Linked DNA regions of Homo sapiens: region 1 is linked to region 2. The links come from fine-mapping of genetic effects on gene expression. A gene starts in region 2. The other region holds a variant in brackets. All regions are shown on one strand. Distances are from middle to middle.

Evidence for each region. PIP is the estimated chance that this variant, and not a neighbour inherited with it, causes the effect. A credible set is the group of variants that fine-mapping cannot tell apart.
Region 1: its variant is the best candidate, but not a certain one, in a credible set for the expression of MOB2 in whole blood (INTERVAL, PIP 0.68).

Annotation. Positions count from the first base shown.
Region 1 is chr11:1,602,585-1,607,784 of GRCh38, reverse strand. It overlaps KRTAP5-3 (keratin associated protein 5-3), which reads left to right. Exons shown (of 1, transcript NM_001012708.2): 1 at 1-220. The coding sequence ends at 116. Among named protein-coding and RNA genes, the nearest start is that of KRTAP5-3, 3.3 kb to the left of the region's middle. The variant G/A (reference allele first, on the strand shown) is at 2,296.
Region 2 is chr11:1,483,604-1,488,803 of GRCh38, reverse strand. MOB2 (MOB kinase activator 2) reads left to right here and starts at 2,025. Exons shown (of 5, transcript NM_001172223.3): 1 at 2,025-2,357. The coding sequence starts at 2,248.

The DNA of each region.
Region 1 (5,200 bases), 120 kb before region 2:
AGCCCTGCTGCTGCTCCTCAGGCTGTGGGTCATCCTGCTGCCAGTCCAGCTGCTGCAAGCCCTGCTCCTCCCAGTCCAGCTGCTGTGTCCCAATTTGCTGCCAGTGCAAGATCTGAGGCTCTGCCCACAAACCTCAGTGGGTCCTACAGATCCGGGCTCTCCAGGAATGATTGCAGCTGTGTCCTGAATTCCTGAAGCACGTCTCTGAATCTGTCCTCCTCTGGACTAAGGCAGCCTAGCGTCCAGGGCTCAGTACTCAGCCGCTCAGCCTCTGAGGTCATGAGGGCTTCTGGCATGCTGGGTCCTGCCCATCAACCCTCCCGGAATCCCGTCTTCCTTTCCTGACCCCACCACTTCAACCTTCTCAGGGCTTCAAGATCCCACATCCCTGGGCCCCTCCTGTGAGCCTGCTGGAAACACGCTGACACTGGAATCCTCCGACCTGCTGCCGCCTCTCCCCGGTCCCCGCAACCTCCTGGCTCCTCCCCGCTTCGTCTTCATCCTGCCTGAGCTGCCACCGCTCCGATTGCTTTTGGAGTTGACCTAGAGGACTCGGAATTATTGGAGACCCCAGGATCCTCTCCTGAGGAGGAGGGGCGCCCAGTCTCCTCTTCTACCTCCGACCTGGCCCTGTTTCTTTCCCCAGGGCTTCGCCTTGTAAGTGCCTAGGCTAGATCTTCTAAATAAATACGATCTGCACCTCCCACGAGTTTGCATTGTGATTCTTTTGTTTCAACTTCTGTGTGATTAGAGAAATGTACACTTTCCACAGAGTTGCACTCCCAGGCATTTGGGAACCCCCCGTACCCTGCTGTGTGAGTTTGCTAGGGCTGCTCCACAAACCGTGTGGCTTAAGCAACAGGAGTGGATTGTCTCACAGTCTGGAGTCCGGAATCCGCCATCGAGGTGCCTCAGGGCCGGGTCCTCCTGAGGCCTCCCTCCGTGGCTTACTGATGCCGCCATCCCTATATCCTCACGTACTCATCCCTCTGTGTGTGTCTGCGTCCTCATCTCTTTGCATAAGGACACAGATTAGACTAGGGCCCACCCTACTCCATTAGGTCCATGTTTGAACTAATCACCCCTGTAAAGACCTATCTTCAAATAAGGTGCCATTCTGAGATACTGCGTTGAGGACTCCAACATATGAACCAGGGGGCACAACTCAGCCGTGGCATCCACTTGGCTTGGGGCGTCTCCGTCTTTCCCATCTTCCAGGATACAGAATTGGGAGGCCCCTTGGGCTTCTCTCCCCCACAAGTCGCCAAATCCCTCAGCATCTCCTGGAAGGCTTCCTACAGACATCTATTTCCTGCCTCCTTGTGACACCTCCCTACACAGACTTCTGATTCAGGTGCCCACCTGTCCCTTCCCTGCTGCCTCTGTCAGCTGGGGCTGCCAGAACAAAACCCACAGAGTAAGCCTGGAAGACGGAACAACAGACACCATTTCTCCCAGTTCCGGAGGCTGGAGGGCCTAGACCAAAGTCCAGCATGTTCGACTCATGGGGAGGGAAGGCAGGAGCTGGCGGAGGAGGAGGTGGGCTGCAAGGCTGGAGCCCCCAGACCCAGGCGTCTGTAACAGCAGAGCGCTGGAGGCTGCTCGGGAAGCCACCGTCTCACAGGATGGTAGGCAGTGAGTGCCTGGCGGAACTGCGACAAGAAAGTGAAAACTCAACAACACGGAAGTTTCAGAAATTGCTTCTGAGTTTCTGTTTCGGTAGTAAGGTTGACTAGACACTATTCACAACCCTGAAACTTCTAAAAGGACATGGTGAAACCCCGTCTCCACTAAAAATACAAAAATTAGCCAGGCATGGTGGTGGGCGCCTGTATCCCAGCTACTTGGGAGGCTGACGAAAGAGAATTGCTTGAACCCAGGAGGCGGAGGTTGCAGCGAGCCTAGATCGCACCACTGCATTCCAGCCTGGGCGACAGAGCTAGACTCTTTCTCTAAATAAATAAATAAATAAATACATAAGTAAGTAAATAAATAAAGCTTTAAAGTGCTATGTTTAAAGCATATATATTTTTTTTAAGTCACTGAGCTGTTGAAAAACTAAATAATCCTCAGAGCCAACAAGCAAGAGAGAGCTGGACCCACAGAGGAAGGTGAAAGTCAAAAACGGCCTCCACCCCATGGCTGGACCAGAAAGAGGCCCTGTCTGTTTTCTTCCACCTGTGTTATTGGAAAAAAATATTTGACAAGGAAACATACACCAAACCCAGCTCTTTTGTTTAAAAGCCAATTGCAAAAACACAGAACGAGTGACCTGGTTTAATGGTGGCTAAGAAC[G/A]ATAGAAAAAGGGCCTGGTCTATCTGAGTTAAATTTGAGCTCAGGATGAGGCTAGGGTGTGGTGTTGCTGCCGAAATCCACTCTGTGGTCTGAGGGTGGATTCGTAGCCACACGGTGTCCAACTCAGGGGTGAATGAGCCCCTCCCCATCAGCCCATGCTAGTTCCTTTAATGGACTTTTTTTTCAGAGCAGTTTTAGGTTCACAGCAAAATTGAGAGGAGTGGGCCACAACATCCCCCGTGCTCTACAATGAGAGCACTTCCTCAGAGCCCAAGACAGTAGGCCACTCTCTGGGGGTCCCCAGGGGCTCAGGGTGTGGCTGGCCTGTCCCCAGCTCAGGAGAGACCAGGAGTTGTCTAACAGTTCCTTCATTGGAAGTCTCTGTGGATGCCTCCCACGGACCTGAATGTTGAGGGCCCATGATTTCTACAGTACATTGAGGAGCCGGGATGCAGGGCCCCTATTTCCTCTATGTGTGCCCTGGACACCCCAGGCACAGGGGACAGGCCTGGCCCTGCAACCCCACCAGGGTCCTGACACCAGGCTTGGCCTGGCCTTGTGATGAGCAAGAGAAGAGGCAGGTCCAGAGACACCTCCTGCACGGGATCGCCTGCTTCCGACCCCCATGACAGGCAGTGGCCAGCATGGTGTGGAAGGGGCCAGGATGGCACACGGCAGGCTGCCCTGTAGCCCCAGATGGCTCCTGGCCTCAGGAAATTAATATCCACTGGAAAACTCATCACTTGGAGGCTGCCAGAGGGAAGGGTGAGTGTCACGTTCCTGCAGCCATGGCCAGCCAGCAGCATGCCCTGTGGCCTCTGGCCCAACCTGTGGGACAGGGACCCCAGACAGGGCACAAGTCCCAGTCCCAGAGGGTCCTGGCCTGATGCTAACCCAAGCCCTGTCAAGGGAAGGGCATCAGGGGCGCCATGGGCACCCAGCAGCAGCCAGGAGGATCACACAGGGGACTGAGCCTTCTGTGGCAGTGGCCGGACCCAGAACTTAGCCAAAAGCAGGGCAAGCCTCCTGGATCAGAGCGGGTGCTGCTGCCTGTGCATGCCCAGCAAGGCTGAGCCAGTGATGCTACCAGGGTCCATGAGGCAAGGGTGGGGCAGGAGCAGGCTGACCAGCCGCCAACCTCGTCCACTCCAGGAGGCAGGGATGGCCAAGCTCCCACGCCCTCGTGGCCGCCACCTGACCACCGATGGGGCAGAGGCCTGAGGCCAAGCAGTCAGTGCTGGGGCCCTGCTTCCAAGGTCTACAAACTGCTCCAGTCCGGAGGGCCAAAGATAATTGGGCACGTGAGGGCCCAGGAGGTCAGTTCCCTACGTCTGCCATCCTTGGCAGGTGCATTTCATGGTCAGAAAAAGTCAAGAAAGGTGACACCTCTCAGGTGTTATTATGAAGGACTCTCCCAAGACACATCTTTTTTTACATTTATTTTTATTGTACATATTCATGGTGGACAACATGGTGCTGTGGTAAACATGTACACTACTGAAATGATGGCTGCAATTAATATCTCCAACACCTTCCATGGTTCCTTTTTGTATGTGTGTGTATAAGTGTGTGTGCATGGGTGTGTTTGGATAAGTGTGTGTATGAGTGTGTATGCATGTGTATGAGTGTGTGTGTTTGTATGATTATGTGTGTATGAGTGTGTGTAAGGTGTGTTTTTAATTGTGTGTGAGACTGTGTGTATGTATGTATGTGTATGAGGGTGAGTGTGTGTGTGTATGTGTGTGTATGAGGGTAAGTATGTGTGTACGATGTTAGTGTGTGTGTATGTGTGTGTGGTAGGAGCACCTGGAGTCTTCTCTCAGCACACCTGCCACACACAACACCTGACTGTCACCTGTAGTCCTTGCACTGTGCACTGGACTGCTCGGCTCCCTCTCCTACACAACCGCAAGCCCTTGACCTCCTCCTCCCCCTTTCCTTCTTCCTCCAGACCCTGGTAACTACTGTTCTATTCTATGTTTCTATGTATTTGACTTTTTCAAAATGTGGAATATATGCATACATCTATACGTGTATATATGGAATATTCTTCAGCTTTCAAAAGAAGGAGATCTGGTTACTTACAACAACATGTACAAATCTGGAGGACATTACACAGGGTGAAAAGAGGCAGACACAGAAAGACAGACATCACACGCTCTCCCTCACACATGGAGTCTACAGGAGTGAAACTCACAGAAGCACAGAGTGCAAGCATGGGAACCAGAGGCAGGGAAAGGGGAAATGAGGAGGTGCTGGCCCAGGGGTCCAAAGCTTCAGTTCTTCAAGATAAATAAGGCTTGGAGACCCAATGCATAGCAAAGTGACCACAGGTAACAACACGGTGTTTATTATGTACTTAAAACGTACTGAGAGGGTAGATCCTACATGTTCTCACCACCAAGAAAAGAGAGAGAGAGAGAGAGAGCTATGTGAAGTGGCAGATGTCTTAATTATCTTGACTGTGGTGATTATTTCACAATGTAGACATATATGAGATCATCGAATTGTATGTCTTAAATATACACAATTAAAAAACAATAAAAGCCACCCCCAGTGCCAGGCCCCACAGGCACCCCCACCCAACCCTCCTACTTGCACATACAATGTATAAAAAATAGATGCGCATACACAATTGGGTATTGCTACCAATTCGGATTTTATTATCCACATTTCTTTGCAACTTAATTCTTTTCACTAGAACTTGTATCATGGTTGCCTCTCCTAGGAAGTAGATCTGGGTATAAGTCTATGTTTCTTTACGCGCATGCGTATTCATATATGTGGAGTTTTTCCACAAGTAGGATCACACATACTGGACTCACTTTTCACTGTCATTTGCTTTTTGTTGATTCCTACACACCTTCCCCACTCCACCCAGCCACTGTCCTACGTACCCCAGGCA
Region 2 (5,200 bases):
GCCCCACTACCTAAGTTTTGATCAATAGGAATACCTGCTCCCTGCACGTGTCCCCCAGTGAACAAACACAGATGAATGTGGACGTTCCTCTGGCGCCAGCCCAGCCCTCTCGGGACAGTGGCATAAGCCACAGAGCTGCCGTGTGCTGACCAGACCCACTGGGCACACTTGGTGTGCTCCCCCACCCTACCGGGCACCTTGTCTTGACTGTTCCCCCGCCCCCGTGCCACCCTCACCACTGCCTTGCCTGGACCAGACTAGGCACGCTTGGTGTGCTCCCCCCACCCTACCCGGCACCTTGTCCTGACTGTTCCCCCGCCCCCGTGCCACCCTCACCATTGCCTTGCCTGGTTGCCTGGCTTCTTGTGCCCGAAGCCTCCACCATCCCCAGCTTCCTTTATGCTCTGCCCTCCAACCCCCAGCAGCTCATTCTCCCTGTCATGGGCCTCTGCACGGCCTTCTCTGTCCAGGCCATGCCTCCCGAGAGTGGGCAGGTCTGCGTCATGCACCTCCTGGTCCCAGCCCTGCTACTCACGGGGGCCTCCCCAGGCCTGGAGCCCGCTCTTCCTGTGGCTCCCTTTGCCACTTGGGTGACCTGCCAGCACCTGTGTCCCTGCTGTTGGTGGAGCCCCCGAGGGCAGACCGGCAGCCGTGAGCACGGTGCCTAGGTGCGTGTGGCACCACAGGGCTGTGGGATGGCCTTGCCAAGGCAGAGGAAGGCCTGTGGGCGCATGGACGTCCTGAGCCTCACCGGGCTGTTTGTTCTGTAGAGACCAGTTACGCACTGCTCAGAGCATGGCTTAGGGACTGGCCTAGTGGGGAAAATGAAACTGCAGCCTGTTGGGCCTGCTGCTGCTGCTGCTTAGGGAGGCGGGGGCCGGCCTGGGGCCATCCTCTGCTGTGGCTCCTGGAGAGTGTGTCTGTGCTGGGTTGGTGTGCTGTCTCCCCGTGCGCCCAGGCTGTGTGTGTGCGTGCAGTCCAGACACCACAACTCCCATGGGGGCTGGTATTGATGGGGGTGAGCCTACCCTGGCTGCTTTCCTGATGGCTCTGTGCTCCCCGCAGCAGCTGGTACCTCAGGCTGTGTCCTGACTCCTACAGGGCTTCACACCGACAGAGGTGCTGGGACAGCTTCTGAGGGGCAGTGGCTGGAGATGCTGGGGTCTCTTGATTGGCAGGAAGCACAGGAAGTATGGCTCCCATGCGGGTGGGGGATGCTCCTGATGACCCCGTGTTGTCAGGGGGCTGTCACTGCCAGTGGGGTCCACGCTGACTCAGGATGAGGAGAGAGCATTGCCCTCTCAGGTGTTTGCATTTTCAGGATGTGGTGGTCTCCTGTGTGCAGACCAGCCAGAAGGAAGGCCGGGGCCGTGCCGCTCTGTGCGCCCCCATGGGGAGCTGCTGTGGGCATTTCTGTTGGGCTGGGTGCCCTGTGGTCCTGGCTGGCAGCAGCCTCAGCCCAGCACCGTCCAGGCACCGCAGAAGCTGGTCGGCCCCTTCTCTCTCCAGGGCCATCCAGCAGGAAAGCCACTTTGAGTGCCTCCAGCTGCGTACACACTGCAGGGCAGGGCGGCCCATCTGTCTGTCCGTCTGTCCGTCCCTGGCCCGAGCACTGACTGGGCTAGGCTGGGCCGGACAAGGGAGAGGGGAGTGCCATCGACCTGGAGCTCGTCAGCAGAGTTGCTGCCTGTGTTCAGAAGGCCTTTCCTGGGGGCTTGGCAGCAGAGGACCTTGAGGTGGAGCCCAGGACCTTTCTGATGGATCCTTCTTGCAGGCCAAGGACGGCCCTGTCCCCTCCCTTCTGGTCCCACCCCCACCGCCTCTTCTGGCAGCCTGAGGTGGAGCCCAGGACCTTTCTGATGGATCCTTCTTGCAGGCCAAGGACGGCCCTGTCCCCTCCCTTCTGGTCCCACCCCCACCGCCTCTTCTGGCAGCCTGAGGTGGAGCCCAGGACCTTTCTGATGGACCCTTCTTGCAGGCCAAGGACGGCCCTGTCCCCTCCCTTCTGGTCCCACCCCCACCGCCTCTTCTGGCAGCCATGCCACTTGGAAAAGGCCAATTCAGACGCTCCCTCGTTTCACCAGCCTTGGCCAGCCCTTGCCTCTGGAAAGGGGGCAGCTGTTTGTCTCTGCCAGGCGTCCCATTGGCCAGGGAGTGAGGCTGGAGGGCCCGGCAGCAGGCATTTGCGAGTGCTGGCCAGCCGGCACCCCGCCCCGCTTCTCCTCCCCACCTTCCCGTCGCCCACTCATGCTGGGAGACCACTGCAGTCTCCCTGAAGACCAAGCCCGGCCCGGCCAGTCCCTGCAAAGTGGACTCTGCTGCAAAATGGTGCTTCAGGCTGTCAGCAAAGTGCTCAGGTAACACCTGCCAGCCTGGCTGGGGGAGGGGTGTGTAGCACATCTGTCTGCCCTGTTCTTGCCCCCAGGAAGGAGGTCAGGGTGGGGAGGCGGCGGACTGTGTCCGTGGCTGCCCTCCCAGTGTGGCCGGCGGCTGTGCAGCGAGCTGTGCTGGGCCACACGCAAGCTGTCCAGGGCAGAGGCGGCTGTGCAGTCCCGGGCCAGCCTGGCGGGTTTGCTCTGGAGCCCTGCCCAGTGGGGCTTTCCTTAGCCGCCTGCACTTCCTGTTGCTCTGTGGGAGAGGAGCGGGTCTTGGTGTCCTCGACCTTCGGGGTTGACCCCACCTTGCCGGCACAGGAGCCTGCCTTGTCCTCCCGCAACCCACAGGGTGTGGTTCCTCAGCCGCCAGCAGGTGTGCCTGTCTTTGTCCCAGCGTGCGGCTGTTTGTGCCCTGGGCAGGGGCTTCAGCCACCCAGGCAGAGGTGACCCGGAGTCTGTCCTTGTGTGGCCTTGTCCAGAGAAGTGGCATGGGGTTCCCGGGTGCCTATTTTTGTGCTGGCTGCCATAGGGATGTTGCCGGAAAATCCATTTTTGACATTTTTCTCACCTGTACTTTCTCTGACCTGCTGCGGGGGTGCCTCCCTGCCCACACCACTCAGCTCGGTGTGTGCAGGGGCGTGTGTGGGAGTGTGCGCCCAAGTGTGTGGGAGCGTGCACCCGTGTGTGTGGGAGTGTGCACCCGTGTGTGGGCATGAGGGGCCGGGGGAGTGGGGCAGGCACAGCCAGCTGCAGCAGTGAGTGTGTCCTCCCGGGTGGGGTTGCCTGGTGGGGGTGTGAGGCGAGCGTGGCCTGCTGGACGTGCCCTCCAAGGGCCGGGGGCTGCGGCACCCGTGTGCATCTCCGTGCCTCTGCCTGTCCCTGGGCACCCGGCTCCATCTTTCTCTTCATAGGCTCCTTCCCTATCTCCCGATCACCTGTGCATTCAACAGGGAGGGCTCCACAAGTAGACACAAGAGTGCCGGCCGGTGACCCTGCCTAGGATGTCCTATCTTAAGGTGAAACTGTGAGGTTTTGGAAATGTGTGGGCAAGTTGGCAGTACTCGTGAGTTCAAATCAGGAATGGTGCCTGACATCAGTGGTGTGAGGGGACTGGCGTGTGTGTGTGTGTGCCTGTGCCAGTGTGTGCTTGTGTGTCTGAGGCCAAATGCCGAAGGCAGCTCCACAGGAGACACAGAGGCAGGCCTGGAGCCCAGCCAGGCCCTAAGGAAGACGGGCGGAGTCCCTTCCCTGGGGCTCAGGAAGGTTTCAAAGGAAGCGATGAGGAAGCCACCTTGGCTGGGAGCTGGATGCATGGAGGGGCCGAGGCGCAGTGGAGCATGGTGGCCACGTGGGGCTGAGGTTCTAGGACAGCAGCAGCACCTGCCTGTTTGGACGTTTGGTCTGGGATGTCTGCGGGCGTTCCTTGTGCCATCTTGGCTTTTTCCTTCTCAATGGGCCTCTGCAGAGGGCACAGTAGGCTGGTAAAAGCTCGCTTTGTCTGGGGCTGCTGACCTGTTTGGGGGGGCAGACAATTAAACTCAGAAGAAAAGAAGCCACACTCCACAGCTTCCAGCTGGCTGAAGCCTGTGGGCAGTGCAGGCTGTGCTGAGAGATGGACAGGGGCTCCGGAGGCCTTCCCACCCCTCAGCCTGAGGCCGTGTGACAGAAGTGGGATCAGCACCCAGGGAGAACTCGGGTTAGAACACGGTGTTAGAAATGCAGTTTTCAGGCCCCCCCTCAACACCCAGAAGGCCACATCAGAAATGTAGGGGTGGGGGTGGCGCCAAGCACCCCAGCATGTGGTGCCCTCCCTGCATGTTGGGGTGACAGGAGGTGCCCGTGGCGTGCACCCTGGGCAGCAAGGTGTGCTGAGACCCAGGCTCTGTACCGGGTGGCTACTGGGGGCTCTGCCTGGCCGGGTCTTGGGGGAAGGGGTCACTGGGAGCCTTGACTTTCAGGCTCTGGGTGGACCAACCAGCACTGACATTCACCCGAACCAAGGAGCATGAGGGGCCCGGTGCAGATGGCTGAGTGGGGTCCAAGGACCATGCCCTCCTCAGAGGCGTCACCTGCGGGCCTTTCTCCTGCACCCCACACGCTGCCTGGTCACCGTATTTTCCAGGCCTGGGCTTGGGGACTTGTATTTCTGGGCCCCTCGTGCCTGCCCCACCCCTTGGCGTTGACCTGTGGTGGGAAGTGCCAGATGAGGGCCACCTCCTGCTGCTGCCCACTCACCTCAGGGTCTACAGGCTCGACTTCCATAGCAAGCGTGCTCTGGGCGAGTGGGGGTCTCTGAGCCTGGAGCACCCCATTCCTGTGGGCCGTGGGGCCTGGCCAGGATTCCATCCCTGTGATAATGAAGTTGACACTCGTGGCAAAGGTGCAGGGCACTCGGTTGTGCTGTCCTCGTCCCTCAGGGCGGATGAGGAGTGGGCGGCTCCCAGCCCACTCCCCAGCTCCCCCTGCCTGTGAAGCAGTGTGCACCTGCTGTGGGCAGGGTGAGACCCCCTGTGTGTTGACTGTGTGGTTGTCTAAGTTTTCCACGGGAGCCCAGCAGCTCTGATGCCTCCCTGTGCCCCTTCCCTTGCCCACCAAATTTGTGTCTAGCAGGGATTGCCTCACTTCCCAGTAGGGATCAGTTACGTGCTGGGTGCCAAGGAGGCCGACTGGCACGTCATGGGTACCACTGGCGAGAATGGGGAGGGTGGCATTTGACAGGCTCTTAAAGGACCAGGAGAAGTTTGCTAGGCCTGGTGTAAGATGGGCAAGTTGGCAGAGCAGCAGCTGGTGCCCACAAACAGGGTGCAGACCCCTGTGGCAGGCAG